Regions from separate parts of the Homo sapiens genome. Here all the other regions are linked to region 1. Evidence: fine-mapped expression QTL. A gene starts in region 1. Each other region holds a variant in brackets. All regions are shown on one strand. Distances are from middle to middle. Region 1 holds the start of METRNL (meteorin like, glial cell differentiation regulator). Region 2 has its middle 48 kb from the start of METRNL. Region 3 overlaps LOC101929650 (a long non-coding RNA gene). Region 4 has its middle 22 kb from the start of METRNL.

Region 1 (6,600 bases):
CCGCCCCTGGAGGTGGAGGGGTGGCCTCCCCGCCACCCTCGGCTGCCTACCGCGCCCTCCCTTCGGGCTCCGGGAGGCGCCCCCTCCTACCGGGCACACAGTCCCCTGACACCCTGAAAAGGGCGCCGGCCCCTTCTCGACACACTCGGCCTGGGTGGCGGGGGCGGCGTTTCTGGCTTCGGTCTGCTGGAGCGGAACGCCCCGGGCCTCGGTTCGGGGATGCACCGACCCGCCGGGCAGAGGCAGCGAGCCGGGGCTGAATCACTCCGCGGGGGCAGGGGCGGCCCCAGAAGAGCCGTCGGCCTCGGAGGCTCCCGGCGCCGGCGTTCCCGGCCGACCCCCCCCAGACCTCCATCCGCCCGCGGCCCCGCTCGGCCGAGAAGGGAGGCGGCCGCTCCCGGGACAGCCGGGCACCGCCCACGGCCCTCGGGGCGACTCTGCCCCCCAGCGCCACGCCCCTTCCCCCGGGGAGGCTCCGCCGGGGGCGCTGGGGGGCGACTGTGGCTTCGCGGGGACCCGGAACGGAGGCTGCGGCTGCGGGGAGACCTGCGCCCGCCCCGCGGACACCACCCGCCCCGCACCGGCTCTGCCCCGACCTTCTCGGAAAACAGCTTCGCTCGACATCACCGCGTGACTCGGCCCGCGGCGGGGGCGGGGGCGGGGGCGGGGGCCGCGCCGAGGGGAAGCGGGACCCAGGCCCGGGCCAGCCCGGCCACGGCTCTCCGGGAGGCGCGCGTCACTCGGGTCCCCGCGCATCTGCGAACCCCGGAACTGGCGACTGCGAGGCTCGCGCAGGGCGGGTTCGGCCGCGGTGCCCTCGGCGCCCTGGGCTTCGCGTGGGAGCGGCGGCGGCTCCCGAGGGGCAGTCGCGGTCGGCGCCGCTCTCGGCGGCCACGCTTGAGTCAAAAAAAAAAAAAAAAAAAAAAAGTCCTCGGCCGCCACCGCGGGTGGGGGGGGGGGGGGTCGCCCAGCGCAGCGCGCGCCGCGGCCAAGGGCGGCCTGACCTTCACGGGGCAGGGGCGGGGGGCCCGGCCGGAGCCACACTCGGCCCGGCTCACAGGTGCCCGCCCGCGGCTCCCCGAGACGGAAGTGGCCCCCGCTGCGGTCCGCGCCCGATCCCCGAAACCGCCGCTCCCTCCCGCGGCCGTCCCTTCCCGCTCTGGCCCGGGGCGGCCTCGGGGCGCGCAACTCCCGGAGCCTGCCAGGAAGGGCCCGAGGACCGACCCCCGCCTGCCCCCGGGATGGGGTCGCGGGACCGGCGGCCCCCGAGGCTCGGACACGCGCGGAGCCGGGACCCACCCGGCCGCGCTGCAGGCGCGCCTCCCCCGGGCGTCCTCCGGGCCGGGAACCGGGACGCCGCGGGCTCTTTTGTTCTAGAACCGGGGGCGGGGGACAGCGGGCACCGGACTGGGCCTGGAGAGCGGCCCCCGGAGCCCCTGCCCCGCGCCCGCCCCCGGCCGCGCCCCCGCACGCTCGGCCGGCCCGGGACGGGAGGGGACGCGAGGGGAGGGGGCCGGGCCGGGGTCGCGCCGCGCACACTCACCTCCCCTTCCAGCTGCACCGGTCGCTGGAGTACTGCGCGCCCGCGCCGCCCAGCAGCCCGGCCAGGAGCAGGAGCAGCAGCGGGAGCGGCGGCGGGGGCGGGCCCGGGGCGGGGGGTCGCGGCCACGGCTGCCCCGCGCGCCCCCAGGCCGCCCGCGCCGCGCCCCGCATGCTCTGGCGCCGGCTCCGCCGCCCGGCCCCGCGTCCGCGACCCCCGGAGCAGACCCCGGAGCCGGCGAGCCGGGCGGGGGCGGGGCGGGCTTCGAGTCCGGGTGGTCACGTCGCGCGCCCCCCGCGTCCTCCGCGCGGCCGCCCGCCCATCCCGGCCCGCTGGAGCCGCGCGCAGAGCTCCGCGCCCGCCGCCGCCGCCGAGCCTCTGAAGTTGGCGAGTCCGAGTCCGCCCGGCCGGGCTCAGCTGGGGGGTGGGGCCCACCCGCCGCCCCGCCCCGCCCCCGACCCCGCCCCCGACCCCGCCCCGCGCCGGAAACTCCTCCCGGGGCGCCCGGCCGGACGCGCAGACACCGAGTCAGCAGCGAATCGGGGGCGCGGGCGCCGGGGCGGGGGGCGCTGCAGGAGGAGGGGGCCGCGCCGGGCGGCGAGCGGGGTCCGGAGGGAAGAGCCCGGCCTGGAAAGCGGAGTCCGGGGCCGGAGGGGTTGCAAGGCGAGGGCGGGGCGGAAACCCGAGACCCCCAAGTAGTGGCCGACGCGAGCCGCGGTCGCCCCCCGCAGACCCCCGCGAGGCGGTGCCGGGGCCGCATCCTGCGCCCCATCCTGCGCCCCATCCTGCGGGCAGCCCCGGCGCGGAGCGGTAAAGGAGGCTCCCGGCCCCGCCGGTTCTGGGTCCCCCGCGCCTCGCCAGCGGGCGGTGATCAGGGGCGATCCGGGCGCCCCGCGTTCCGCAGAGTTGGTGCCTCGGGAGTTCCCGGCTCCCTCCTGACCGGGGGGGAGGCCCGGCGGTGAGCCCGGCTTCCCTCCCTCCTCCCGGAGGACGTGCAGCCGCCGCGCCGGGGCCTCTGCCGAGCGCTGCCCACTCCTCGCTCCGGATACGCGGGGCCGGGTGGTTCTTGGGGTGGGGACGTCCTGCGCATGGTGGGATGTTGGCAGCACCCTGGCCCCCGCACTCTGGGTATCAGTAGCAACCCCCGCCCCAGCTTTGACAACCTAAACTCTCTGCAGATTTGGCCAAATCCCGCCCCCACCCCGTGCCCGCGGGGCAGAATCACCTGCGGAGCGTCCTGCTCGAGTGTGTTCCTCGGAGTCGGCGCCTTCCCCAGGTGGTCACCGCGGCCACCACGTGCCTGACCCAGTGGGGGGGACAGCGGAGACCCCCGCCCGGACTGGGGAGGCCCTAGAGACTCAGGCCAGAGAAGGGGAGCCAGAGGGTGCCGAGGGCCCCCCAGGCAGGAGAGGGCGGAGCTGGCCCGCCCGGCGGTCCCCGCTGCGATGGCAAAGCTGGCTTCTGTGTGCTGCGGGTCAGTGGCCCTGCCCGAGACGCCTGGTGTCAGTTCCAGAGCCGAGCGCAGCATCCAGCGGTGGGGAAGCTTGGCCTTGTCCCCTTTTCCAGCCAAGATACCTTCCAGGAGGACTTGCGAACGACCTGTGCAAGTCTGAATAACTGGGTTGTGACTACCAGAGGAGGCGGGGAGAGGGCTTTGAAAATTGTGAGTCTGCAGGGACGGAAGTCACCGGCAAAGGCAGGTGGAGCCCAGCCCCCAGCCCAGGAAAGCTGGGACAAGGGTGAGGGTCTGAAGAACTGGAAGGCGATGACAGTGACCACTGAAGGTAGTTTCATTGTAAGGATCTGTTCAGAGCACCCACCCCATCGAAAGCCTGGAGCCAGGACCTTGCCCAGCACATCAAGTGACATCACCCTGAGGCTCAAGGTCTGGTGGAGGTGCATTTCGGAGCTTGGAGACTGCCCCACCCACCCCCGTCTGCTCTAGGAGTGCACCTCCCCCCACCCCCATCACTGCAGGTACCAGGGTGCCCAGTGGAAAGGGACCTGCTGTGGAAAGGGACCTGCTGTGGAAAGGGACCTGCGGCTTCACACCTGTGCGCAGCAACTGCTTTCCATGCCCACCAAGCATAAGATAGCAGCCCCCCCAGGCCCGGTCCACCCTTGAAGGGCCACATGGCCTATCAGGGTCCAGATCATCACACCACGGAAGAGGCAGGGCAGTGCTGGGATCTCTTGAGTTATAGATGCGGACATGGGGAACTCAGGACCTGCCGTGACCTGCTCAGGGTCTCAGAGCCCCTGGTGGCTGCTAGACCGAAGGGGAGAGGCCGCCTCTGGTCAGCAGGCAGCTGGTTCCAGCCTAGGCTGGGGCAGAGATCTGCCACCTGGCAGGATGCCCAGCCTCCTGTGCCCAGCGGGCTGTCCTAAGACTGGGATCGTACGATGGTGAGTATGGGACCCACGTGTACTTTTCAAAACCCGTAGAAAATACAGCACAAGAGTGAATCCTGATGGAGGCTTGAGACATTTGTAATAATAACGGATCAATATTGGTTCTTTGACTGTCACACGCCTACACCCTAATGAGAGAAGGTAATCATAAGAGAAACTGGGTCAGGGAGAGGGTGTGTGGGGGACCTCTACCATCTGCTTGGTGTTTCTGTAAACCTAAAACATTAAGTCTGCTAATTAAAACAAAACAAAACTAGAGTAAGAATGCTTGCTGGCCAGTATTCTCGGAAGAAGCTAATCTGTCTTGGGAAAGGAGCCTGGCCCTTTCCACCCTGGGGCTGTGGTTCCCCAAGCTGTTCCCTTGAGGAGGTTCATGCCCCAGAGACATTGGGTGCTCCTGGGCACCTCTGCTGACCCCTGTCCTGGCCCAGCGAGGCCACCTACAGGTGAGACGTCCCCTGTAGACGGGGTTCCTGGTGTCAGGAGGTATCAGGCTCCTAGAGGATGCAGGCTGAGGTGGTCAAGGCTGTCTGGGGGTGTTCCCAGCCACTGGTACACTGCCCCTTGTACCACCAGACCCCGAGAGGCCGATTATGAACCAAAAGGATCCCAGCTGGTCATGGTGTGTGGCCCTCCCCCTGGTCCTCTGGGAGGGTCTGCAAGGAAAGGGCCTTGGGTGTGTTTGTCCCTGGATGTCTGGGAAGGGACTGCTTCCCAGTGAGCATGTCACGGGGTTAGACCCAGGAAGGGGCCACAGCATCATCCCACCCACCCACTCGTGGGAAGGAGCTGGTCTTCGCAGCTTTGCGTGAAGCTCTGATACTTCCTACCTGAGTCGGAACGTTGAGGCTGAGCCGTGGAATCGGAGAGCTCCAGAACCCACCAGGATCACGCCTGCCCATTCCCTCTACCGGCGGGCCCTGCAGTGATGCTTCTGCATCCTGGGAGATGGCAGCTAAGGGACCTGGGCCAGGGGGGCCTGTGGCCCAACCGTAGGTCTACATCAACCCTCTCTCTTTCCTCATCTATCCATTCCCTCGAGAAACAGCTCTCAGAAGCCTCCTGGGCAGACGTCCGTGAAAAAAATTCTGGGTGCACCCTGGACAGTCCTTCTGTGCCTCACCAGGGTCTGAGGCCTCAGAAAGCAGGACGTGGCCTCCCATGTCCGAGGACCACGACCCACTGTTAGGATCGAGTGACCTCGGCAGGGTCACCTCTGTGTATTTGACCCGGGAGTTTTTATCGCGTGCATTGCAGGGACCCAGCACCTGGGAATTTGCTGGGGTGGAGGGCTGTGGGACTGGACCCCTTTCTCGGCCTTTCCTATGCCGGGTGCCTACAGGCCCTGTGGGGTGGTGGACGGACCTGGCTCGGACGTCAGCCCCCAGCTCTGGGTCACAGACATGGTGGGGTTGGAGTCTGTTTCTGAGCCTCAGTTACCTGCAAAGTGGATCTGTTCTTGATTCCCAGGGCGTCGTAGGGTTTACGATGTCAGGATTCAACGCCACGTCCCCAGGTGGGGGCTGATTCTCACCTGTTCAAGGCACCACCGGGCTGTCATCAGGCCTTGGGGCCCTCATGGGGCTGGGTGGGGGGAACCCCTCCCGCCGTGCTCCCCACAGCTGCGAGTTCTCTGAGCCACTGGCACAACCCGGTGGACTTTACTGCTTTTATTTTTGGCCCAGTCTTGAGGTTTTCAAATGTGTGTTGACGGCCAATGTGCTGCCCAAGATGACCAGTCACCTGAATCCACTCACTAAAGAAACAGCTCCTCCCAGAGTAGCTGGATTCCTCCAGAAAAACATCACACGGTTTCCCCAAGCGCGTCCATGAAATTTTCTCTTTCAGCATTTGAAAAATACTGAAGAACGTCGCAGTCTGTCGTTCACGTGAGCACAGTTCATCCCACGGCCCCGCCCAACCACCACCTCCCAAGTCATTTGCCACCCGTTTCCCTCCCAGGCCATTTTCGCCAACCTTCTCGTAATTATCGTAATTGTGGTTGAATGATACATGGAGAGCCTGTGCTTGTAACTCAACTTCAATGAGCAACGTGTAATTACTACACGAAACAGCCACGGATGCCAGCCAGCCTCCACCTGATGACCTTCAGTGTGTCATTCTTCCCTAACCCCCTCCTTAACCTAATTTGCTGCCATGTGCTGCTCTCTGTGCGTCAGAGAAAAGTGGGAGTAGGGAGTTTCCTTGAGTCAGATACAAGTCCAGGCCGATGCTGGCCGGCTATGTGACCTTGGGTGGTGCTTGCCCCCAGGTTGGCCAGGTGGAGAGAGGCCACCAGCCGCCAGCTCGGCAGTGAGAGACAGTTCTGTGTGGCACGCTGGCCCCACACCGTCCTAGCAGTTGTTTGTAGCAGCTGTTCATGGCAGCATCTCACCCTCCGCCCGGCCATGAACCGACCATGGCCCCAGGGCTGGTGAGCTGTAGTGACTCTGCCATCTCGGGCACTCAGACCCCACAGGGAAGGAGGGTCCTCGGCCTCCGCGGGGTGGTGTCAGGAGGGGCCATCTACAGTACACGGTGGATTTGTACACAGAGGTGGACGTCTGCGTGGACCCTGACCACGGCCGGTCAGATGTGCTCAGGGGCAGGACCGTGAGCCCAGTGATGACGTGCTAAGGTCCGGCCGG
Region 2 (6,958 bases), 49 kb before region 1:
CAACCTGCCGGAGGCCAGCCTCGCCTGCTGCTGGCGGGAGCACGGAACAGCACAAACTTCGATGGAGGAGAGTTCACTGCACTTAACAAAATTGCAAGCGCGTCTGGCTCTGACCCAGCAATTCTAAGAATTTACCAAATCAATGTAAAAATAATATTTTTAAAAGTATGTGTCTTCGGCCGGGCGCGGTGGCTCACGCCTGTAATCCCAGCACTTTGGGAGGCCGAGGCGGGTGGATCACGAGGTCAGGAGATGGAGACCATCCTGGCTAACACGGTGAAAACCCATCTCTACTAAAAATACAAAAAAAATAGCCGGGCGTGGTGGCGTGAGCCTGTAGTCCCAGCTACTCGGGAGGCTGAGGCAGGAGAATGGCGTGAACCCGGGAGGCGGAGCTTGCAGTGAGCCGAGATCGCGCCACCGCACTCCAGCCTGGGCTACAGAGTGAGACTGCATCTCAAAAAAAAAAAAAGTATGTGTCTTCAATGATACTTACATCCTAAATGCACATCAAGGAGAGGACCGGTCAAATGTCTCGGCAGATGCGTACAATAGAATACTATGAGGCGTGAAACAGAACACGAAGTTCTTTTTGTAGTCATATGAAAAGATCTCCAATAAATAATATTAAATTAAACATAAATACGCAACCCTCAAGTGTGGGCTGTGTAGACTGACTTCCTTCCCGAGAGTATGGAGAGGGAAGGAAAAGGATCACATCACCGTGGGGAGACCTGACCGACTCCCCTCAGCTGGGTGGCCGAGGCCAGTGTCCACAGCAAGCATCCGTGCTGGGTGTGTGAGTCCCTCACAGGATGGGGTGAGCAGGGCACTTCACCTCTGGGGTCATTGTCCCCAGGCCCCAAACCCCAGTCTTACCACGAGAAACACATCAGAACAATTCTAACAGAGACGCAGCTACCAAACACCCAACAGGCCTCCTCAAAACTGTCCCAGTCACCAAAAGCCAGTCTGAGAACTGCCCAGCCCCGAGAGGCCTACGGAGACGCGGGACAAAGTGTCATGTGGGACCCTGGATGGGTCCTGGGACAGAGAAAGGACATTTAGGGGAAACTAAAGACGTGAATAAACTTCAGACTTTAGCTAACAATCATGTGNCAACACTGGTTCATTGATTGTAACAAAGTATCATTCTAACATAAACTGTTAACAGTGCAAGAAACTGGACGTGGGTATGTGGGAACTCTCTCTACGATCCCCTCAATTTTCTGTAGACCTAACACTGCCCTAAAAATAAAGTCTATTATAAAAATGAAAGAAAATTTAAAAATTTTTAAGTAACAAGGAGAAAAGTGTATGTAACATCCTGCCGTTGGTGTAAAAGTCAGGGAATATGTATTTGTATTGAACTGTATGTGCTAAAGGACCTCTGGGAAGTCACCTAAGACACCAGTGACAATGGCTGCCTCTTCCAAGAGGCAGGACTGAGCAGACGGGAGAGGAGGTGGGAGGAGTGAAGATTTTTTAACACATTTTGAAGTTGGAAATTTGTAAACTCGTTATTTAAAATGCTTAAATAAGGGAGGAGCGGGGGCTCGCCTCATGGGACCTGTCGAGGTGAATAAAGCAATGATTGTGAGGCCTCCCAGTGACGGTGAACTCCACCTACGGGATCCGCACAGGAAACATCACCCTTCGTCCTGGCCTGACCCGGCCCCGGGCGTGGTGGAGACCAATGCTCACTCCCCCGTTGCTGCAAAACCTCGGTGGCTTTAAACAACAGCAACTTCATTTTCTCAGGAAGCTGCCTCTGGGCAGCACCCCTGGGCTTGCCTCCGCTCCACTCAGCGCTGGACAGTTNTCTGAAGCTTTAGCAANCCCAGCCAGAGTCCATGCTCCTTTGAACACAGGTCCAAGAGCCCAGGGTCTGCGAAGCCCAGGTCAAGAAGCTCGGTGAGAGGTCTGAGAGGCAACAGGCGGGACCCACGGACACCAGCATGAATGTCCCGTTCCTCTCACTCTGTCTGGCGCTGGGATCCCGTAAACCTACAGCACATCCCACTGCAAATGTGAGGGCTCCACAGGAGACTCCTGAGTGGCACCGGGGAACGGTCAGCCCACAGGGCGTCAGGGGCCCTCCCCCAAATCCCTTCCCGGCTCCAGGATCTGCCCCTTTCTCACTTGGACTCCTCTTCCTAAGACAGGTCTTGCAAGGCTGATGGGGAATCAGAGAGAACGACCTGCTGGCCCAGCTCAGCGGTGTCGGGTGCTCTCCTGGGTGCCAGTTCCCAGATGCCCGGGTGTAGTCTGCAGAACCAGCTCCGTGTTATGCTTGAGAGTGACTGGTAGGTAGCAGGAATTCAACAAATACGAATCAAATGAACAAATGTTTCATAGCATTGTTCTGGAACCCCCTGGAAAGGGGCTCCAGGACCATGTGATCTCAAGGGTGCATTCTATGGGGGACACCCCTTTACGAGAAAAACTTGGGACTGTGACGTACCCCCTCCCAAACTGGGAAGGGTCAAAAGACCAAGAAATGACTCAGAAGGGTCCACGTTATCTGACGAGTCAATGTGTTGATCAGGATTTACCAAGGACACTGCTGCACAGTGGCAGGACAGCCCTGAGACCTGCGCCGCCTCCCGTCTCCAAACTATTTTAAGCTGATCTTCTGGCTTT[G/C]CCTCCTGTGTGTGTGTGATGGGGCTGTTTCCTCGGTGGGTTCTCAGAGCCTCTCCTCGATCTTTGGGTTCTCAGAGACACCAACTCCTGGCCTGGGCACCAGGGCCTTGGCTCACCACCTGGCTTTCAGGGCCCAGGCTGCGAACACAGGGCCTTAAGAACCTGGTGGGGGACCTGCCACCCTACAGATCCCACACCCCACCCTACAGATCCCGCACCCCACCCTACAGATCCCGCACCCCACCCTACAGATCCCACACCCACCCTACAGATCCCACACCCACCCTACAGATCCCACACCCCCCCTACAATCCCACACCCACCCTACAGATCCCACACCCACCCTACAATCCCACACCCACCCTACAGATCCCACACCCACCCTACAATTCCACACCCACCCTACAGATCCCACACCCCACCCTACAGATCCCGCACCCACCCTTCCAGCGTGGGGCTCTCGGAGAGGACGGCCTGAGCTCTTGCACTCAGCCCCTCGTGCTGTGGTGCCTGCCTTGCATTGAACCTCTCAGTGTCCTGTGGTCAGTGTCTGCCTGGGGTCGCGAGGACAGCTGTGGGCTGTGGTCTGAACATGCACAGGACCAAGGGCCACACACAGGGACATGGTCACGGCTGCTGCTGCTCAGGGAGACAGGCAGAGTCCAAAGCGTCTGTGCCCGGAGGGGCCATTGCCTGCCTCTGAGAGCAGCATCCTTCAGGCCGACTCTGTCGTCCCCAGGCACTTCCCATAAGTGACGATGTCTGCTATTGCTTGCTTTATTTTTTTTTTTATTGTTGGACAAAATTAAAAGTACATTTAAATCAGTCCTCAGCTATGGGGGGTTACTTAACCGGCCCATGAAGTCCAAAGCCAGCAAGCTTGTTTCTGGATTTACGGTTGAAGCTCGTGCCAAAGATGCCTCTGCGTTGGGAGGGGAATGTCCGTGTGCTACAAACCACACACACTTCAAACCCCCACAAAGCCCACACTGGGCTGCACGCATCAATGACGAGCCAGTATTTAACAAGGTGTCTGAATATCAGAAGGGTCTTCTCATTTATAACAGTAATGTAAATTTACAGACAGTTGTAAGAATTGCAAATTGTCCAAAACCTGCTTATCCTTCAAAAATGACAGTCTTCAGAATTCCATGAAAAAATAATGTCTCTTCCATAATAAACACAAATATTTGAAACACAGAAACAAACAGGTTGTTTCATAGAAACAGATGCCCAGGCGTCCACCAGACCAGAGGGCAGTGGTCACTCAGAGAAGAGCAGGGCCCTGGGAGAGCTGGCGACCGCCACGAGGCCAGAACTATGCATGTTCTTTATGAACTCCCAAAGGGTAGATTTTGCTGTGCTATGCCCTGGACTTAAGCCAGGATGACCCTCAACCTCCTAGGTAAATGACTAAACCCAAGCCCGCTGATGCAAGGTGGGTCCTGACCTCTGACCCAGACACTCCACCATCCTCTTTGAGCTCCTTGCGGTGACACACGTCCTCGGGGCCTGTCCAGACAGGGGTTGTGGCATCTGATGGCCATCAGCTTGTCTCAGAGACCAGGGGTCAGCCTCAGGTGCAAGCCCAGCTGAACAACAGAGGCCCTGAGCAGCCCCAGCCATTCCAGCCACGCCACTGTTCTTGTCCTCAGATTATTTTCTGTGCAAAGGGAAAGGGGCTGTTGCAAGAAGCAGACCCTCCCTGGTCACGGCACCCTACACTGCCCAAGGCTTCCCGGTCCTGACTGCCCCCNACAGTCGTGCGGCTGCCCCAATGGCCAGAGCTGCCTCTGCTGCCCCCAGCATTCAGTGGAGCAGGGGTGCAGGGTGAATGAATGGTAATCCGTTCAGAGAACCTGAGCAAACGCTGTGCAAGCTGCTGGCTTTGAAAGGAAGTTGTCATCACATGCAGGGAACCCTGTCTTACCAGCCGACAGGTGGATGACCTTCTCCCCTGGCAAATCCCCAGAGAAACAGACTCAGAGCTTCCCTCAGGAGTGACAGCCCCACAGGTTCCCTGCATGAAGGGACAGAAGGTCGGACCTTGCAGGTCACCAGGGGTCCCCTCTGCACCCAGGTCCATCGTCAGGGCTGGAGTCAAGCTGGGCTCCACCCGCTCAGGTGCAGGAAGCCAGGGGTTCGAGGGCGAGGGTGTGGCCTGCGTCACCTGCCACATGCACATATTTCCTACTGACGCCTGCACGCTCCTGATTTAAGGTGACGTCTTTATAGCACTAAGCGCGTGGTAAAAATAAACCCACACAGCCCATCCGCCGCACTGTGTTGCAATTTATTCTCTTAGGAAATTTCCAGCGAATGGCTACAGAGTTGCCGAGGTTGAGCTAGAATTTCAGTTCTTCAAGGACCCAGGTCTGCGCGGAACCCAGGGGTGTGGCAGGAAAAGGGACCAGAAGCCACATGTCAAGAGCCTGGGGGAGGCTTCTGCCAGCAAGTCTGACCACAGCCATTCTGATGCGGAATCATCTTTTTTCCCTGAAGCATTCCAAGGCCTGTACAGGATGCCAAAGAGCTGCTCTAGCTCCTTACAGAATGGATGCGGGCTTTTTTCCTGTGCAGGTGGGAAGGAGGCTGCAGGAGCCTGTCAGTGGGAGCTGCTCCTGCCGCAGCCGCTGCCAGCTCTGTTCTGAAGCACTGGGAACAAGAAGGCATCGACCTGTGTGTGTGCAGGAGAGAGAGTGTCGGCTTCAGGCACTACGAGCCCTTGGAGAGCAGAGATGCCGGGCTGTGTGCCCGAAGGAGAGCGGAGAGGGATAGGGGTTGCCAGGGCTCGGGGAGACCACAGCCCAGAGGTTGCAGATGCCGTCAGGGCTCAGGGAGACCACAGCCCAGAGGTTGCAGATGCCGTCAGGGCTCCCGGAGACCACAGCCCAGAGGTTGCAGATGCCGTCAGGGCTCCCAGAGACCACAGCCCAGAGGTTGCAGACGCCGTCAGGGCTCCCGGAGACCACAGCCCAGAGGTTGCAGACGCCGTCAGGACTCAGGGAGACCACAGCCCAGAGGATGCAGACACCGTCAGGACTGGGGAGACCACAGCCCAGAGGTTGCAGACGCTGTCAGGACTCAGGGAGACCACAGCCCAGAGGTTGCAGACACCGTCAAGGCTCCCGGAGACCACAGCCCAGAGGTTGCAGACGCCATCAGGACTCAGGGAGACCACAGCCCAGAGGTTGCAGACGCCATCAGGGCTCAGGGAGACCACAGCCCAGAGGTTGCAGATGCCGTCAAGGCTCCCGGAGACCACAGCCCAGAGGTTGCAGACGCCATCAGGACTCAGGGAGACCACAGCCCAGAGGTTGCAGACGCCATCAGGACTCAGGGAGACCACAGCCCAGAGGTTGCAGACGCCATCAGGACTCAGGGAGACCACAGCCCAGAGGTTGCAGACGCCGTCAGGACTCAGGGAGACCACAGCCCAGAGGATGCAGACGCCGTCAGGACTGGGGAGACCACAGCCCAGAGGTTGCAGATGCCATCAGGGCTCAGGGAGACCACAGCCCAGAGGTTGCAGACGCCGTCAGGACTCAGCCCCTGGGCCAGGGGTGCCCTCAGGCTGCTTCCCAGGGAGGAGCTTCATGGGCCCCATCCGGGGGATGCTCCTCTTTCTCGGGCTCCTTTGAACGGACTGAGGCACAGGCTTGCTCCACACACACAAGCTCTCCAAGGCCAGCCCCAGCCCAGCAGCATAAGCTCTGCCTGGTCCCTGGCGGGGCCCGGTCAACAGGTCTCCCTGTGCCCCCAACAAGCCCCCAGATGGTGCCACGGCTGCCCGAGCCCTCCAGGGGCTCCATGTCCAACCCACCTGGTCCACAGTCTCCCAGCACCAACCAGGGCTGGGGGGCCTCCTCCCCATTCCCCTTGGGCCATAGCAGCTCCAGTCCCAGCCATGGCCTCTGCTGTGCGGCTTCTTGGCTGGAACCCCACCCCTAAAGCGTGTGCTGTGCTTTCTCAGTGAGGCCACCCCTCTAACATCACAGCCCCCACGCTCCTCCCCAGCTTCCTCACAGCGTTTCTTCTGCACCACATTAGGCCGTCTTCTCGTTCGTTTCATCGTCTCACACACGTACAGGTTCATCAGCCTGTAGGCTCCACAAGGGCCTCAATGTTGATACATTTGTGTTATTAAAAATTTCAAACATAATACAAAAGTAGAGAAAATAGTAAGACAAACCCCAGTGTCCAGTCCCCTGGCTTCAGTAATTATCAATACTCGCCCATCTTGCTCATCCACATCCCACTCTCTCATACGTGGAAAAGCAAATCCCGCACATTATATCATTTTCCCTGCAAATGC
Region 3 (8,201 bases), 130 kb before region 1:
GCCGCCAGCTGCGGGATTTCCTCTGCAAAAGACAAACCACAGGGAGAGCTGCCGGGGCTGGGTCGGGGAGTGTGACTGTGAACGGAGTTCTGGGGGTGATGTAACTGTTCTGTATCCACAGTGTTGCTACATGAATCTATAAATGTGTTAAACTCATAGAACTGTACACCGAAAAATAGCAGTTTTGCTGAATGTTAATTCAGAAATGAAATTAAAATTTTAAATTAACAACAAGCAACTTTACAAGAGAAAAAAAAAAACCTCATTTCCTCCCCACAAAGCCACCTCATGAGCCTGGGTGGTGCCTAGCCAGTCCTGCTGCTGAACCTGCTCTGACCTGGCCTAAGGGTAGGACTCGAGGCTGGGAGCCAAGGGCCAACCACAGGACAGGCAGCAAGACCCGCTTCGCTGGTCTGTCACACACACCGCACCAAGTCTGTGCTCAGGATAAACCGGGGCACACTCTGAGCTGGGCCTGTCTCCGGCTTCAACCAAAAAGCCTGAGCTCTAGCAGGTGAAGGACCAGACGTTTCTGTGGGGCTATGGACTTGTCTGGGAGGCAGCCACCTCTAAGCCACCCAGGATGGTTTCGGTTGTGTTTGGATGGAGTTCTGAGTTTTGCCAGTTAAAATTCCCCCTTCAGGAGCTCTCTATGGGGTTAAAGTGCAAGATTTGGGGTAGAAAAATGACAAGTCAGAGGACTGGAAGGAACATTATGGACTGTCCTCCCTTCTGCCTGAAGAGATGGGGAGACTCTCCCAGGCCATGTGGAAGACCTCACAGGGGGACCAACTGCTGCCTTTCAGCCTGGCCGAGGGAAGAGCCCCTGACTCAGCCTCCGCAGGAGGAGGTGGGCTGGAACCAAGTTTCCCTGCATCAATCCAGGCAGGCAGCCCCGAACAGTGCACTCCAACATGGGATAGTGAGCCAGCTTGGGGGACGGCAGCTGTCTAAACAGGAGCGTGCAACCCCCATGCTGAGAGCTCCCCAGGGTCACGACTACCCAGAGTCAGAGCTGCCCAGGGTCACAGCTACTCGAGGTCAGAGCTGCCCCAGATCAGGGCTGCCCAAGGTCAGAGCTGTCCTGGGTCAGAGCTGCCCACGGTCAGAGCTGTCCTGGGCATCAGAGGCGCAGAGGTGGGAAGGGCTGGCTTCAGGTGGGAGTTATAGGTGGGAGTTATGCTACAAAGGGTCTTGAAGGCCAGTGTTGTTGACAGGGTAGGGTGCCTGGGTAATAGCAGAGGAAGAAAAAGGCTTAGAGTTGGAGGGAAAAACATGAACTGGAGTTGGGGGAGTGCACCTGCCCCCTCAGAGACCACAAAGCCTCCCCAGGGCTGGGCTGTGGCTGCTGGAGCTCCCAGCCCATGCCAAGTGTCAGAGCCCGGGCAAGACCCTCTGGGGTAGCCCGGGACCACCAGAGGTCAGAGCTGGAGGAGGCTCAGCTGGGGCCCTTGCACCAGGCAGGAGGCCCAGAAAAGAGACAGTGCTCTTGAACTGCAGGAAGGCAGCTCCGTAGAGAGGCAAATCTCACTCCAGCTCGGGCAATACTCAACTACACGGACGTGGATGCTCTCAAGGGGGCTTTGGGGCATGTGGTGTCGGCATTGGACCCAAATATGGGCTCAAAGCTTTCCTTTACCATATTCTTTCTACATTTTTCTTGCAGATTGAGAAGGGATAGGGAGGAGTTTAGGGAAGTGAGTGAAGCAGGAAGATGTTGACCAAGGGAAGTTAATTCCATAAAGAGGAGGATGAGGGGACAGAAAGGCAGGAGGAAGAGGAGGAGGAGAATCTTCGCACAGGGGGTGTCAGCTGATGGGGGCAGCATGGGCGCCCATGGAGCCCTTTAGGGGTCGTTGGTTGTGTGCAGAGAGGCCACAGCAGGCGAGGCAGGCAGTGTCTACCAGCCCCAAGGAGACACCAAGAATCCCTGTCCTTAGGAAGTCCCCTCTTCCTCCTCTTGAGTCTCATCTCGGAAAGAGGGAGCTGTCAGTCAGAGCTCAGGCCAAACACTGGGGCTAATAGGTGAGAGCAGGGACCTGTGGGGTCCTCACCGCTGTCCCCTTCTCACCTTTCTGGCTCAGGCCAGGCTCAGCCCCCAGTGGTCTATTGTCTTTCTATCTGTCATCTATCTACCTACCCACCTATGTAACCATGCCATCTATTTCATCTATTTTTATCTATCAACCATCTATCATATATCTACCTACCTACCTCTGCCCTTCTTTCTCTCTACAAATTAGAGGCCACATCCCTGGCCGCTGAAGCCTTGTACCCTGACCCACTGTCTGAACCTGATGGAGTCTAAATGCAGTGAGCGGGTGCCAGCCTTCCCTGGAGCTCTGCAGAGGCAAGGAGGGGGTGGATGGAAAGACGGGAGTCCCTCCCCTTAGGTGAGGGGGGGAACTAGGGCCCGGGGAGATGCCCAGGCCTGGCGGCTGGCGTACGTGGGTTCTCTGTGGCCAGCAGGCGGCGCTGCAGGAGGGGAGATGCCCAGGCCTGGCGGCCGGCGCACGCGGGTTCTCTGTGGCCAGCAGGCGGCGCTGCAGGAGAGGAGATGCCCAGGCCTGGCGGCCGGCACACGTGGGTTCTCTGTGGCCAGCAGGCGGCGCTGCAGGAGGGGAGATGCCCAGGCCTGGCGGCCGGCGCACGTGGGTTCTCTGTGGCCAGCAGGCGGCGCTGCAGGAGAGGAGATGCCCAGGCCTGGCGGCCGGCACACGTGGGTTCTCTGTGGCCAGCAGGCGGCGCTGCAGGAGAGGAGATGCCCAGGCCTGGCGGCCGGCGCACGTGGGTTCTCTGTGGCCAGCAGGCGGCGCTGCAGGAGAGGAGATGCCCAGGCCTGGCGGCCGGCACACGCGGGTTCTCTGTGGCCAGCAGGCGGCGCTGCAGGAGCGCTCAGAAGCAGGGGCCTGGGCCTGCTCCGGGGGAATCCGCCCACCCCACCGCGGCGGCCTCTCCTGAGGTTCCCTAGTGGCCGCGAAGGGTGGGCTCAGGGTGAGGGGTCAGGCCACATCAGTGGGTGCAGGGATGGCTGCGGCCACGGGAGGGCGTCCAGGGAGGAGGCCGGAGCTCAGGCCCACTCTGCACACCCAGCCCGCCACCTCCCCCGGCTCTCTCTTCCTTCGTGCACATTCTGGGGCTTGTGCTTCTGCTGTGGTCCCATTTAGCCAACCTGGCCAGCCTCTCATGCCTGCTTCATGGGTGAGACGTGGAGGCCAGGTCAGCCACAGACCCCGGGGCACACGCCGCAGCCAGCACAGCAGGTGGGCGTCTGCGGCCGGGGCCAGCGCAGGGCCCACTGGGCCTCGGAGGGGCCTCCCTGCCGACTCTGCCCCCGTCCTGTGGCCGTAAGTCCACCCAGAGCGCTCGATCTTCCGTCCACCAGGCCAGGGATGCGCGCAGAGTAAGGATGTGTGTGTCTACGCATGTGGGGGTGTGGGTGTGACGGGGTGTGTTCTGTGTGAGAACATGTGTGTAGTGTCCACATGTCCTCTGTGCGTGAGTCCCTGTGTGTGATGTTGTGTTCTGGGTGTGAGTTCATGGGTGTGACGGGGCGTGCTGTGTGAGAACATGTGTGTAGTGTCCACATGTCCTCTGTGCGTGAGTCCCTGTGTGTGATGTTGTGTTCTCGGTGTGAGTTCATGGGTGTGACGGGGCGTGTGCTGTGTGAGAACATGTGTGTAGTGTCCACATGTCCTCTGTGCGTGAGTCCCTGTGTGTGATGTTGTGTTCTCGGTGTGAGTTCATGGGTGTGACGGGGCGTGTGCTGTGTGAGAACATGTGTGTAGTGTCCACATGCCCTCTGTGCGTGAGTCCCTGTGTGTGATGCCTGTGTTCTCGGTGTGAGTTCATGTATGTGTGTGTGAGTTTATGCTCTTGTGTGTCAGCACATGGGTATGATGTGGGTATGTTCTCTCTGTGGGTGAAAACGTGTGTGATGTGGTTCTTTGTGAATCTCTGTGTGTGACGTGGTGTGTTCTCTGTGTGAGTCTGTGTGTCTGGTGAGTGTGTCTGGGTGTGTCTGGGTATGTGCGTGCTGTGTGTCTGTAGTATGTGTTCCTGTGTCTCTCTAAGCTGGTAGCTTCATCTCTTCCATGTTCTCTGACATTCAGAGGAATTTTCTCACAAATGTGTCCACAACATGGCTGTGTGCCATTTCTCCTGCTTTGGGGAGCACCAGTGTCTGCAGAGAGAAACGTCCCTGCTCCTGCCCCTGCATTCACGGCATGACCCTGTTTGCCCAGCTT[C/T]CCCCCATACACAGCCCCGGACACACCCTCCTGGGGGAATGTGGTGGGCTCCGCACTGACCGCAGGATCTGCCTCTCACCAGGGATTCATATCCACACGAAAGGGCCAGAGCAACAGCTGGCACATCCCCTTCCTTCCTCCACCGTTCCCACTTATTCTTCAACCAGCCCTAACCAGGCAGGGAGCCCAGGTCCCACGGAAAATCTCTATGAGAAAGTAAGACAGAGGGCAGACCTCCGCCGTGGTCCCTGGAGAACCAGTCGGCGCTGACACCAGGAGCAGGAACTTACTCTTTCCCAGAGGCAGGCAGGGACGGTCATCCTTGCCCAGAGGCCTCGCCTAGAGTGGGGTCCCAGCCCTGCAAGGGACCCCTAGGAAGGGAAAAGGAGCCACTTGTACATCCTTGCTTCCTACGGAGCCCTCACATGGAGCACATGGCCACTTCGGTCTGGGTCTCTCCGTGCTGCTCACTGTGCTGGTGGGGTGTGCTGCGGAGGTCTCTGGGGAGGTCCCAGGAGCGAGAATGGACCAGGCCCAGGGTAGAGGTGCAAGAGGGTCCTGCCCTTGGCTCCCTCCCCCGGCACAGGCCAGTCAAGGTGGAGAGGAGGCCCCAGCTTGTCCAGCTGGCAGAGGCTAGCCAGGGGGACTGACATGGTGTCACTCTAACCCTCATTTTTCTCAGCCCTTCCATTCCTTATGACTTCTTGCTAGGAGAACCCTGACACCATCCCTGCTGACACTGGAGATATTCCAGAGAGGCCGATCGTCATTGAAAGGGAATGCTCCGTGAACCCTCTGAGCCCTCTTTGACTTCAGAAGCAATAGTATCACAGCTCACAAATTCAGTAGAAAGTCCGAGTTGCATCAGTTTGGAAGTCATGCGGTCAGGCTTCCTGTACCCAGAGGGTGATTCAGCCGCAGAAAGCTCTGGGCTGCACCCCACCCACCCCTGGCCTTCAGGGCCCAGCCACATTGAGGCTGCAGGCGAGCCTGGCCCCCATGCCTGAGAGCCAGATTCCATTCCCTGGCAGCCTCACCTTGGATCGGACAGGGAGGGATCCTAGGACACCAGCCTCGTCTATCCTCCCTGGGACACCCTAGAACCTCACAGCCTGTGGGAAACACCAGGGCATGGAGGGTCAAGCCTACAAAATCCCCCAGTAGGTGATTAGGATAAGGTGAGCACTGGCCCTAGCTGACTCAGGCCAGCCCCCCAAGCAGCCAGACCACGTGAGAAGTGATGGCCACACAATGCTCTGGGTGTCTCAAGGAAAGTCCAAGAGCAGTGGCACTCCGGGCTGCATCCTTGGAGTAAGCACAGAGCAAGACCCCAGCATGCTTTGCAGACCCCGCCTTATGAGCCCTGCACCCCACTGCTCCGGGAGGGGTCAGCACCCCCATGCCAGGGCTGGTTTTCGGGGTGGGTGCCTGGACAATCTGAAGGACCTTTCGGCCACAAGGTGTTGAGAACTCTGCAGAGGATGCTGGGGATTAGCACAACAAGCTCTGCTCCTTCAGGCTGTGCGAGGCCTCATGAAAGCTCCTAAAAATCAGAGGAAGGGCCATGGCAGAGCCTGGGACAAGTGGGCAGCTCACAGAGGGGACTGGGTGCTTGCCATTAGCCCAGACTTCTCCCACTGCTCCTGCCTCAACTGCTACTGCCCGGAGTCTAAGCCCACTTTGTTGACAAGTACCCATTCTATAGAGAGCCTCGCCTAACTCCAGGTAGAGGCAGAAAAGTGTGTGTAGATCAAATGGCCCAGCTGGCAGCAGAGCCAAAAGTCATGCTTACTTGCTGGCCAGCCTTGCACAAGGCACCAAGGGTCACCTCTGCAGGCTTCAGATCCTGCCCTCTGTGAACAGTCAAAAAGAAGGTGTCAGAAGGAGCTAGAGGATGCAAGGGTGGCCAAGGGGCACAGAGGAGGGTCAGGTTACACTGGGAGGGAAGAGAGGCAGCCTTTGCATTCTCTAGGAGAAGCAGGGCGGGAGACTTTGGAGCCCAGCTCCCTGATGGGACATATGGGAACCTGCGGGGACAGGAGAGTGTCTTTGATAGGCGAGCCCAGTGCCTCTTACCTTCAGGAGGGCGCCTGAGCTGTGAAGTCTGCCCCTGTTGCTCAGAGATAGTTCCCTCCAGCAGGAAAACCTCTTTGAGGTGAGTTACGGCTTCTGGAGGCACAAGGATGGGCCGAGGTCACCAGGCCTTGCCTGTCCACCTTACCTACCCTGAAGTGCATGACCTTTCTTAGGGACAGAGCCTCTCTAGTTAATCTTAGAGCCTGGCCAGGAGCCCAGGATGGGGCAGCATGGGGCACAACACTTACTAGATGGTCAGGCGAGGGGAGCAACTGGGACCCTCCCCTCCAGTTCGAGCCATGTGTGTCATGTATGTGCATGTACATGTGTGTATGTAATGTGAAGTCAGATGTGTGTATGTGTGCATATGCAAGGACATGCTAATGTGTGTGTGCATGTACACGTGTGAATCTGTGCAAGCACATACAAGTGTGCATGGGCGTGGACATGTATGTGCATGCATGTGGAAGTAAGTGTACAGGTACAGTCTGAATCTGTGTGTGCACACACAAGTGTGCATGGGTGTGGGCATGTGTGTATGTGCATGCATGTGGAAGTGTGGAAGTGTACAGGTACAGTCTGAATCTGTGTGCACACATAAGTGTGCATGGGTGTGGGCATGTGTGTATGTGCATGCATGTGGACGTGTGTGAGTTGCCCTAGCACATGTTTGTACATATGCTTGTGTGCACCCATGCTAGGCTGCTCTCCCTCCTGGTTCTCTTTCAGGACAGGCCAAGTGAACCAGGGCGAGCTCTTCTCTCCCTCTGACGGCCCCTCCACAGGAGAGGGACCTGGGACCAAGGTTCCTTCAGCCATCAGACCCTAAGTCTCAGGGCACAGGGTCAGAAAGCTTCTAAGGACCCATGAAAATATAGAAACTGGGTGAAATTAACTCTTATTGGCCCGACATATGAAAAGAAAATTGCTTTTGAGCTTCCAGGAGATCTTCTCAGGTTTTGTTTTGGGGATTTCCTGGGAAGGGCATGTTTCCAAACAAGACTCTTGCCGTCTGCTCCCCCGGAGCTCCCCAACCAGCCAGGAGAGGCCACTGGCAGGGAAGAAGGTCCAGCCCAGCACAGACTCCCCAGGGAGGGCCCCAGCCCAGTGGAAGGACCATGGAAACCATGTCAGTCTCCCTCAGCGGCTGCCCTGGGTTGACATGTCCCCTTAGGGATCTCAGGCTCTCAACCCTCTAGTCAATTCTGAGCTGAGTTTTTCTGGAGCTTTATATTCAACTCTGACTTTGCTTCCCTTCACCTCTACTCCCCACCCTAGAAATAGAAACCTGAGGTCAGGAAGTGCTGAGGGTCCTTGGGTTTGGTGTCGGGGAAGACACCGTGCTGACTCGAACCCACTAGGCCTGGAGCCCAAAAGTCCCTTCTCTGTGACCTGCGACAAGCCTCTACAGCCACGTCTCCTTCCCTGTGGTAACCGAGTGACACCAATTGGCTCCCAGCCACCGCTGGGCCTCAGGCAGTTGCAGTGGCTTCGGCACTGGCTTTGCTGAGCCAGTGACAGCGACGGCACCTCCTGGATGTGAAATGTGCCAACACCCTGGCCTCGGGGACCGTACGGCGTGGTGTGAAATTTCTGTTTTAACGCTCCATGACCACATAGGTCTTGGCTTTTTATGAGTAAAGCAGAGACCGTGTTGTACCCAAGCTCTCTGGGTGGCACCCACAGCTTCCTCAGCGGGGTAACGGTGACGGGTGGACAACTGGCCCACAGGCAAACTGCACGTCCCCCACGGCGAGCATCTCTGAGCTGCACTGACCAGTTCAGGCCCATGCGTCACCGGCATTTTTCTGAGCCAGCTCCTCTGGTTCATGAGAAGGTCTGAATTCAAGAAATGAACGCCCAGCAATTAGCAATGTC
Region 4 (8,201 bases), 23 kb before region 1:
CGGAGAGTCTCCGACACACACTGGTCAGCCCCTGCTCGCCAGCCTCTGAGTTAAACCCAGGAGAGACAGTGAAGGGAGCCACCCGGCTGTGGGTGGGGCTGGGAGGGAGGAAAGGCCCAAGGGAGCTGGTGGGGAGGGTGGGTGCGGGGACGTCTCTCACAGCACGCAGCTCCCTTTGCCCTCGTTTTCTGCCCATGAGGCCACTTTCCAACTCGCCAGGAATGGGGTACCCTTGGTAGGAGATGGCAGAGGTGTCCCAGAGCCAGGAGGGTGACAAGAATGAGCAATCGCAAGCTCAGATTCCCTTCTGTCTCCTGTGACTCGCGCTGTTTTGAACCCAAAGGCCCACAGACGGCTGTGACTGTGACCACATCTCCCAGAGTCACCTGGGTTCCAGGCCCAACCATGCGTTGGGAACCGGCGGCCACCCGTCCACTGTCATCAGTTCAGACTCAGCAGCCTCTTCACCCGGGATGAGCCAGGGCGTCGCGTCGGGGGCTCCTGGAGGGCTGCATGAGCCCCAGCCCAGTTCCGCTAAGAAGCTCCTCCTGGTCCCCACGCTCCAGTCTCTAGGCTGCGGGACTCAACCTTCAGGTGGCCAACGTACCCATGGTCGCGTGATCCTTTCCTCTCCCTGTGCAGGCAGACGGCACACGGACCTCGTGCAGGGCCATCACCGCCCAGAGGAGAGTCTGTGCCTCGCTGCTGACCGGGGGCCCTGAGGCATCGGGCGTCCTCCCATGCACCCCTCTCGCCCACGCCCGGGTCTGGAAGGTGAGCCCCCGCCTGGACCGGTGGATCCCTCCCCATCGCCCCTCTGATCTGCAGCCAGCACAGGGGGAGGCCCCTCCAGAGGGTGGAGGCACAATTGCCCAAGTCCAGCTGCCAAGAACAACAAGGAGAAGGGCGAGTGGGGTTCCCCTCCCCCGACTCTCCATCCCAGACCCCCCTCAAGGGCCAGGCGCATTCACAGGAGACAGGAAGCACCACATCTGATGTCTGCTGGGCCTGCTCACCGCTTCCCGGAACGTGCCCGCTATCTCATCAGGAAACACCAGGCCAAGCCTCTCCTGTCAGCCCTCTCCGAGTGGGAAGAGGCAGGAGCTCCTCTCTCAGGGCCGGGGCCCATGAGCAAAGTGCTTCCCTGGGGACCGTGGCGAGGAGCCCCCTTCTGGCCAGCTCGGCTGACCCTTCCTTCAAGTTTCTGCCTATGCCTCGATTCCTCCACTTCCAGCCTCCAACCCAGGACCCCATCAGCCCTCCCTGACAGTGTGATTTCTAAAACCCAGGACCCCGAGACGCCGATGACTTGTACTAGTGTAGTCAGGGTATGTCCTGCCTGTTTTCTTCGATTCCGTGTCAAATGCTGGTGCTGGCAGGTGTTGCACGGCCTCAAGTCATCCGCCCCCCTTGGCCTCCCAGAAGTACTGGGATTACAGGCGTGAGCCGCCGCACCCGGCCTCCCATATTCTTTTGCAACGACCATCCTCCTGGTGCCCTCGGCCCTGAGTAGGGAGGCTGGACTGGGAGCACAGGGAACCCTGGACTCAAGACAAGGAAGGACCACAGAGCTTGCAGGCAGGAAGTGGAGGGGAGGGTAGGTCCTGGACTGGGAGAACAGATTCCAGACCCCGGCCAGGAACCGGTGGGATTCCTGGGAATGGGGCCAGGGAGTGGACAGAAGTGAGCCTTGGTCTGCCTGGGGCCCGAGTGACCAGTAGCGACCCCAGCTCCCTCTCATCAAGAATGGGGAAACTGAGGCATAGACAGGCCACCCATAGCGCCCCAGGCAGAGGCCACCAAGACACGGCCGCTTTGCTGTACGTGGGGCTTTTCAGGCGAGGCCGGGTGCGTGCAGGAGATCAGAGGGGCGGAGCCCCGAGGAGACGGAGATCCAGAGGGGCGGGGCCCCGAGGAGACGGAGATCCAGAGGGGCGGGGCGCCGAGGAGACGGGGATCCAGAGGGGCGGGGCGCCGAGGAGACCGAGATCAGAGGGGCGGGGCGCCGAGGAGACGAGATCCAGAGGGGCGGGGCCCCGAGGAGACGGAACTCCAGAGGGGTGGGGCGCCGAGGAGACCGAGATCAGAGGGGTGGGGCGCCGAGGAGACGGAGATCCAGAGGGGCGGGGCGCCGAGGAGACTGGAATCAGAGGGGCGGGGCCCCGAGGAGAGGAGATCAGAGGGGCGGGGCGCCGAGGAGACGGGGATCAGAGGGGTGGGGCGCCGAGGAGACGGAGATCCAGAGGGGCGGGGCGCCGAGGAGACGAGATCCAGAGGGGCGGGGCCCCGAGGAGACAGGGATCCAGAGGGGCGGGGCGCCGAGGAGACGAGATCCAGAGGGGCGGGGCCCTGAGGAGACGAGATCCAGAGGGGCGGGGCCCCGAGGAGACGGACATCAGAGGGGCAGGGCCCTGAGGCGATACCATGGCCCATGGGGTCAGTGCCACAGTCCTCCCCAGGCTTCCTTGCGTGACAGCCCTGGCCCGAGGCATCCAACCCATGGGCTTCCATCTTCACAGCCAGAGGGAGGAATGAGCAGGGCTGGTCTGCAGCAGGACAGGTGGATCCTGGGCCAGGGCGTTAAACTTAGCAACTGTTCCAGGGCCCCCTGGAGCAAGCGACCTTCCCATAGCAACCTCTCAGACCCCTGGTGCTCGGTTTTGGGAAGCAGGTGGCACATCTGTGACAACAAGGTCCAGCAGCCACCACCCAGGCCCATCTTCACACCTGGGATCCCAGCCTCTGCCCAGCCTCATGAGCGAAGCTCACACCACGCAGCAGCTGTCTTGGGCCACCCAAGGAGCCACAGCTGCCCTGGGAGCTGTGGCTGAGTTGAGGGCCATCATGCATGGGGCCGACAGGCCACGGGGCCCCCCTGGGAAGCACCCACCTGCTCATTTCTTTTCTTTCTTTTTTTTTTTTTCTTGCTCTATCACCCAGGCTGGAGTGCGGTGGTGCAATCTCAGCTCACTGCAAGCCCCGCCTCCTGGGTTCACACCATTCTCCTGCCTCAGCCTCCCAAGCAGCTGGGACTACAGGTGCCCGCCACCAGGCCCGTCTAATTTCTTTTTGTATTTTTAGTAGAGACGGGGTTTCACCATGTTAGCCAGGATGGTCTCGATCTCCTGACCTCATGATCTGCCTGCCTCGGCCTCCCAAAGTGGTGGAATTACAGGCGTGAGCCACCGTGTCGGGCCCCACCGGCTCATTTCTAACCTTCAGTATCGGCCACAGCAGCGTTTGAGGTGGAATTCTACATTTTTATGGTTTCTCAGTAAAGCAATGCTTCCTGCCCTTGCTTTGGGCTGAGCCCCTGGGGTTTCAGGGCGTCTGGGGCCTGTGTTGGGACTGGGCAGGGGTCCACACTATCTTCATCTGAAGTGTTCTCGCCAGTGGACGTCAGCCTGACCTCCCATCCCTCCTGCCGCCCTGCCACCAAGCTCCTTCCCTCTGCAGCTGGGGCCACTCCCCCTTCCTACTGCCCTGAAGCTCTTCCTGCTGGACAGGCACCAGGCCATGGTGGGGAGTGTCCCTGGACGAGGTATCCCAGATGCACCCCAGTCGTGGCTGCATCTGGGCCCTCCCTGGAAGTTGCCCATTCTCTGTCCTCGGTGTCCTCCGCCCTCAGCAAACACCACAGGACTCTCCCAGACAGCAACCCACGTGCAGCAGCCATGACCGGCACTTCCCAGCACTGCCGGGCCACTGCCTGGAGTACACACCTGGCCCCAAGGGGCTGTTCCGTGGCAAGGAGCACGCCCTGGGAGGCGCCAGCCGTTGGGAAATCAGACAGAGTCTGCTCCACCGGGAAAGCCACACGGAGCTCAGCTGGACTCAGGCTCGGGGGAGGAAGCTCAGGCGCCTGATCGCTGGGGCAAAGCAGCTGGAGGCCGGAGAGAAGGGCAGGCCCTGACAGCAGGCAAGGGTGGCCTGCACCCACCAGGCTGGTCTCCTCACCGGACTGAGGGCCTCTCTTCCCCAGGCACCCACCAGGCTGGTCTCACAGGACTGAGGCCCTCTCTTCCCCAGGCACCCACCAGGCTGGTCTCACCAGACTGAGGCCCTCTCTTCCCCAGGTCCCTGGCCGGCCTCCATGTCCTGGTCCCGGGCCGGCCTCCATGTCCTCCACCACTCAGCCTCAGTGGATCACTGGACAGACTGCAGGGAGTCTTTGCCAGCCTTGGGGTTTTTCCTCCCCAGGTTCCAGTTCTCCCACAAATGCCCTCTGCTCACCTCTGAGAAGTACAGGAAGAGCCGTGCTCAGAGGTCCCACTGGAGACCCCTCCAAGGCACGGCAGGTGCCAGCAACAGCAATGCCAGGGCACCCTGCCCAGAAGCAGAGCCAAGTGAGCAAGGCTGGGGGCTCTGGAGGTCCAGACAAGACCCTCTGGGGGCAGGAAAGTCAAGTGTCCTGGTCGAGGTCACACAGTGGCTGGGACCAAGGACCCCTCTCCACGACCCTGGGAAGCACAGCTGCCCGTGCAGAAGTCCAGACCCTGGTGGAGCTCGGCTCGGCCCCACGGCACGGGAGAGGCAGAAGCTCCAGCAGTGAGTTCTCCCTGAGCTGCAGCTGCAGCGAGGCATCCCCGGCACAGCCCCACGGCTCCAGGTGGAACCGGGAGGAGGAGGAGCCTGGGGACCACTCAAGAGTAGCCGGGCGGGGAGCACAGCCCCTGCAGCGTCTCCTGGGCAGAAGCAGGTGTGGTCAGGACGAAGGAAGCACCTGGTCTGTGGCCCAGACAGTGTCTCCTTCTATCCACATCCGGAGCGACACTGAGGTGGGCTGAACAGAGGCTCCGGTGGACAGAGACCCGTAGGCACCGCCCAGCCTGCCCCTGCTCAAGCTGCCCGGGTCGCTTCTTACAGAGCCCCACTGTGCTGCACTCACATCATCTCACAGGTCCTGCCACCCTTGTCCACCTGCCCACAGACCCGCCACCCCCCTCACGGTCCTGCCAACCTTGTCCCCCCTCCCACAGACCCGCCACCCCCCTCACGGTCCTGCCACCCTTGTCCCCCTCCCACAGACCCACCACCCCCCTCACGGTCCTGCCAACCTTGTCCCCCCGCCCACAGACCCGCCACCCCCCTCACGGTCCTGCCAACCTTGTCCCCCTCCCACAGACCCACCACCCCCCTCACGGTCCTGCCAACCTTGTCCCCCCGCCCACAGACCCGCCACACCCCCTGTCCGGCCCAGGGAAGTGCAGTGCCTATGGGTGGGACTGGCAGACCCGCCGGCCGACACCCAACCTGGCAGCCGCTGTGGCCAGAGACCAGTTATCTACCATCAAGAATGTGCCCTTGACTATTTTTATGTCATGTGTGTTTTCTTTCTTGCCTCAGTTTTTAGTAAAGTTCCTTGTTGGGCATTTTAGTCCAGCTCAGCAGTGCTAAAAGGGGAAAGAAAGGGGCGTTGGGCTGTTTCTGGGCGGAGAGTGCCGGGCAGAGTGGCTCCCGGCCCCTCACCCTTCCCTGGGCCCTCCACCCCTCCCGCAGCGCCCCTCCCCCTCACCGGAGCCCCCCGGGTG[T/C]ATTTTTGTTTCTTTGTTTTTTAGCATATTTTTCATCTTGCCTCTGATCAAACTGATGGCTAGAAAAGTATGTGGCTTGGTAAGCAAAATTCTTCTGAAGAAATTCCAGAGCCCCCGGCCGCCGTGACCTCACCGCCCCGACACCAGCCAAGCCTCCGCTGTCTTTATAAATCACGGCCCGCCCGGCTGGCAGCACACAGTGGCCCAGTGTTGACTCCGGATTCCTCACGTTCCCTGGCGTCCCCCGTGGGGCCCCTGCCCCGGCGGTCGGGGAAGCAGAGCGGGCAGGCTGGGGGTCCCTGGGCGGCCATCCCCTCCCTGCTGGGTGAGCCGGCGTCCTCCCTGCAGGTCTGCGTCCCCACGTCCCGCCCCTGCCTTCCGCCCCTCAGAACCCCTGCCATAGCCGCACTGCCACGACCTCCTGCTGTTAGTGGCCGCCCCCACCTCCGGAGCCCGACCCACTCTGCTCCGAGGCTGCTGGGATGGGCACCCACCTGTAACCAAGTGTGAATAGCAGAGCCGGTGCTGGCTGCAGGCCAGACACCAGCAGGGCTGATCAGGCCCCAGGCCGCTCCTCAGGTGGGGGCAGGACCCAGTGTGCACCGGCTGAACCGGTGCCCACTGCAGGCTGGCACAGGGGCTGCACTGGGAACCAAGGCTCTGCCCTTCTCCCAGGACTCAGTCTCTGTGGGAGACCAAGACCCACAGCCCAGGCTGATGTCCTAGAGGGAAGACCTGGGGGTAGGGGGCACTGGGGAGGGGAGGCATGGGGCCTGGTGGGGGAAGGAATGGCAGGAGGGGAGGGGGTGTTGGGGGAATCCCACAGGAGAGGAAGGAAGAGGCTGAGGTCACAGGCACAACAAATCCCAGGAGAGCAGGGCCCAGGAGCACCCGGTGCCGCCTCAGAAGGCTCTCGGGCCTCTGCTCACAGCCCCGTGCCCCTCCTGGTATTGAGTGACCCACCTGCCGTCCTTCACAAGGGCGGGTTTAATCCCAGCAGGCAGGTTCCCAGGAACATGCCCGTGCACAGTAGGCCTCCCTCCATGCTCGCCCAGTGAGTGGTCAGGGAGGAGAGGACCCCGGGGTCTCACCAGCTCCTCTCAGGACCCTCACCATTTTGACCGCACAAAGGAGCAAAGAAGGGTTCCCGAGGGCAGCCAGGGCCGGGACCCCACCAACCGGCCTGACTGATGAACTCCGGGGGCCGCTGCCTGCACAGAAGGGGAGCGGACAGCCCGGCCGGGGCCAATTCCCACCACGCCGGCCTGGTTTCTAAACAGTTTAATCAATTAGCGAGGTGGAAGCCCTCAGTGTCAGCTGCAGTGCTAATGAGGGGCCCCACCCCCACCCGTGGGACCTGCAGCCGGACTCTGGCCCCTCAGCAGGGCCTCCCAGTGCGGTGGGGTGGGGACAAGGAGGGGGGCTGGGAACCCAGCTGTGCAGCCCCCGCCACAGGCTCAGCCACACGGTGTCCAGTGCCCGGCCCTCCCTGCAGCCAGCTTTCCTTCTGGAACCGCAGGGAACCTCTGACAAAGCCCTCCCAGCAGAGGAAGCTCAACTCACAGGATAGCCAGGAAGGGGGGGCTCCTCATGTGGAGGGAGTCGAGGTCGAGGGAGGATGAGGGGTGAGCCAGGACTGTCCCTGCCACCCCAGCGTCCCAGCTGACCCCTCTCTCTCACACACACAGAGACACATGTGAACACGGACCACATTCCTGCCCAACCTGAGATGGCTTGACATGCCGGGGCCTCGGCCAGCCCTGTGACGAGCTGGAAACCGAGTCACAGCTCCCATGGGGCCCAGCGTTTGCAGATGGGGGACCAGCATGGAGCTGTGGGCTCTGGTTGCTCTCAGCTTCTCTCTCATGGCCATCAGCCGACTGGACCCCAGGGTGAAAGGTGTAGGCGTCTGGGCATCCAACAAGCAGGAGGCCCCCCGCCACCCCACATAGGCTGCCCCCTCGACCCGCAGAGTTCTTGGAAAACCTCCAGGGCTTCCCGGAGGGAAAAGGGCAGGTGGAGGGGGCAAGTGGGGGCCGGAAAAGTAGGGGCAATCCTCACGCTGGGAGCAAGGAGGAGCCTTGCCAACTCCCCTCCCCTTATGGGGGGACTGACAGATACGGGGCTCCTGGGAGAAGCCACCGCCCCCGAGAGCTCCAAAGCCTCTGACTTGTCTTGGGTAAGTCTCACTGCTCTTGCAGCACCTGGGGGACGATGGGGGCCGCCCTGGAGGGGAAGCAGTTGCTGTCCGGTGCAGGTGGGACAGGACCAGGCGTTCAGCGAGGACAATGCAGGCTGCGTTGCAATCCGACGGCCTTTCTGGTTGCTCTCCGGGGATGAGTTACACCCTGAGCCCCAGCCTTCTTGCCTTCATGTGGAGCTCCCCAACCTTCTCTAGTAGCAAAGTCCAGTGAGCCAGGACCCCCTGCATTGGTGATGACCTAGTGAATCCAGGCTCCAGCCAGGGCAGTGTCTCCCCCTGGCCACCCTGCACCTCCCCCGCTGGACTCCCTCCCACCCACCCTGGCCTGCCCAGGTCAGATGCCCCCAGCAGATGGAAACCCTCAGGGCTGGGTGCAGCATTCACCCCTGGGGTGCCAGGCAGGGTCATGATATCAAGTCCCCAGGAAGGAGCTGGGGGTGCAGATCTGCAGGCAGGGGTGTCCTGCA

The links. PIP is the estimated chance that this variant, and not a neighbour inherited with it, causes the effect. A credible set is the group of variants that fine-mapping cannot tell apart.
Region 2: its variant is the best candidate, but not a certain one, in a credible set for the expression of METRNL in whole blood (TOPMed, PIP 0.59).
Region 3: its variant is the best candidate, but not a certain one, in a credible set for the expression of METRNL in whole blood (INTERVAL, PIP 0.80).
Region 4: its variant is the best candidate, but not a certain one, in a credible set for the expression of METRNL in monocytes after interferon gamma (Fairfax 2014, PIP 0.50).

Annotation. Positions count from the first base shown.
Region 1 is chr17:83,074,929-83,081,528 of GRCh38, reverse strand. It overlaps METRNL (meteorin like, glial cell differentiation regulator), which reads right to left and starts at 1,920. Exons shown (of 4, transcript NM_001004431.3): 1 at 1,544-1,920. The coding sequence starts at 1,713.
Region 2 is chr17:83,123,752-83,130,709 of GRCh38, reverse strand. No RefSeq gene overlaps it. Among named protein-coding and RNA genes, the nearest start is that of METRNL, 48 kb to the right of the region's middle. The variant G/C (reference allele first, on the strand shown) is at 2,644.
Region 3 is chr17:83,200,198-83,208,398 of GRCh38, reverse strand. All of the region lies in intron 2 of LOC101929650 (a long non-coding RNA gene), which reads right to left. Among named protein-coding and RNA genes, the nearest start is that of METRNL, 120 kb to the right of the region's middle. RefSeq lists a silencer at 2,791-2,950. The variant C/T (reference allele first, on the strand shown) is at 4,248.
Region 4 is chr17:83,097,582-83,105,782 of GRCh38, reverse strand. No RefSeq gene overlaps it. Among named protein-coding and RNA genes, the nearest start is that of METRNL, 22 kb to the right of the region's middle. RefSeq lists an enhancer at 6,364-7,360. The variant T/C (reference allele first, on the strand shown) is at 5,532.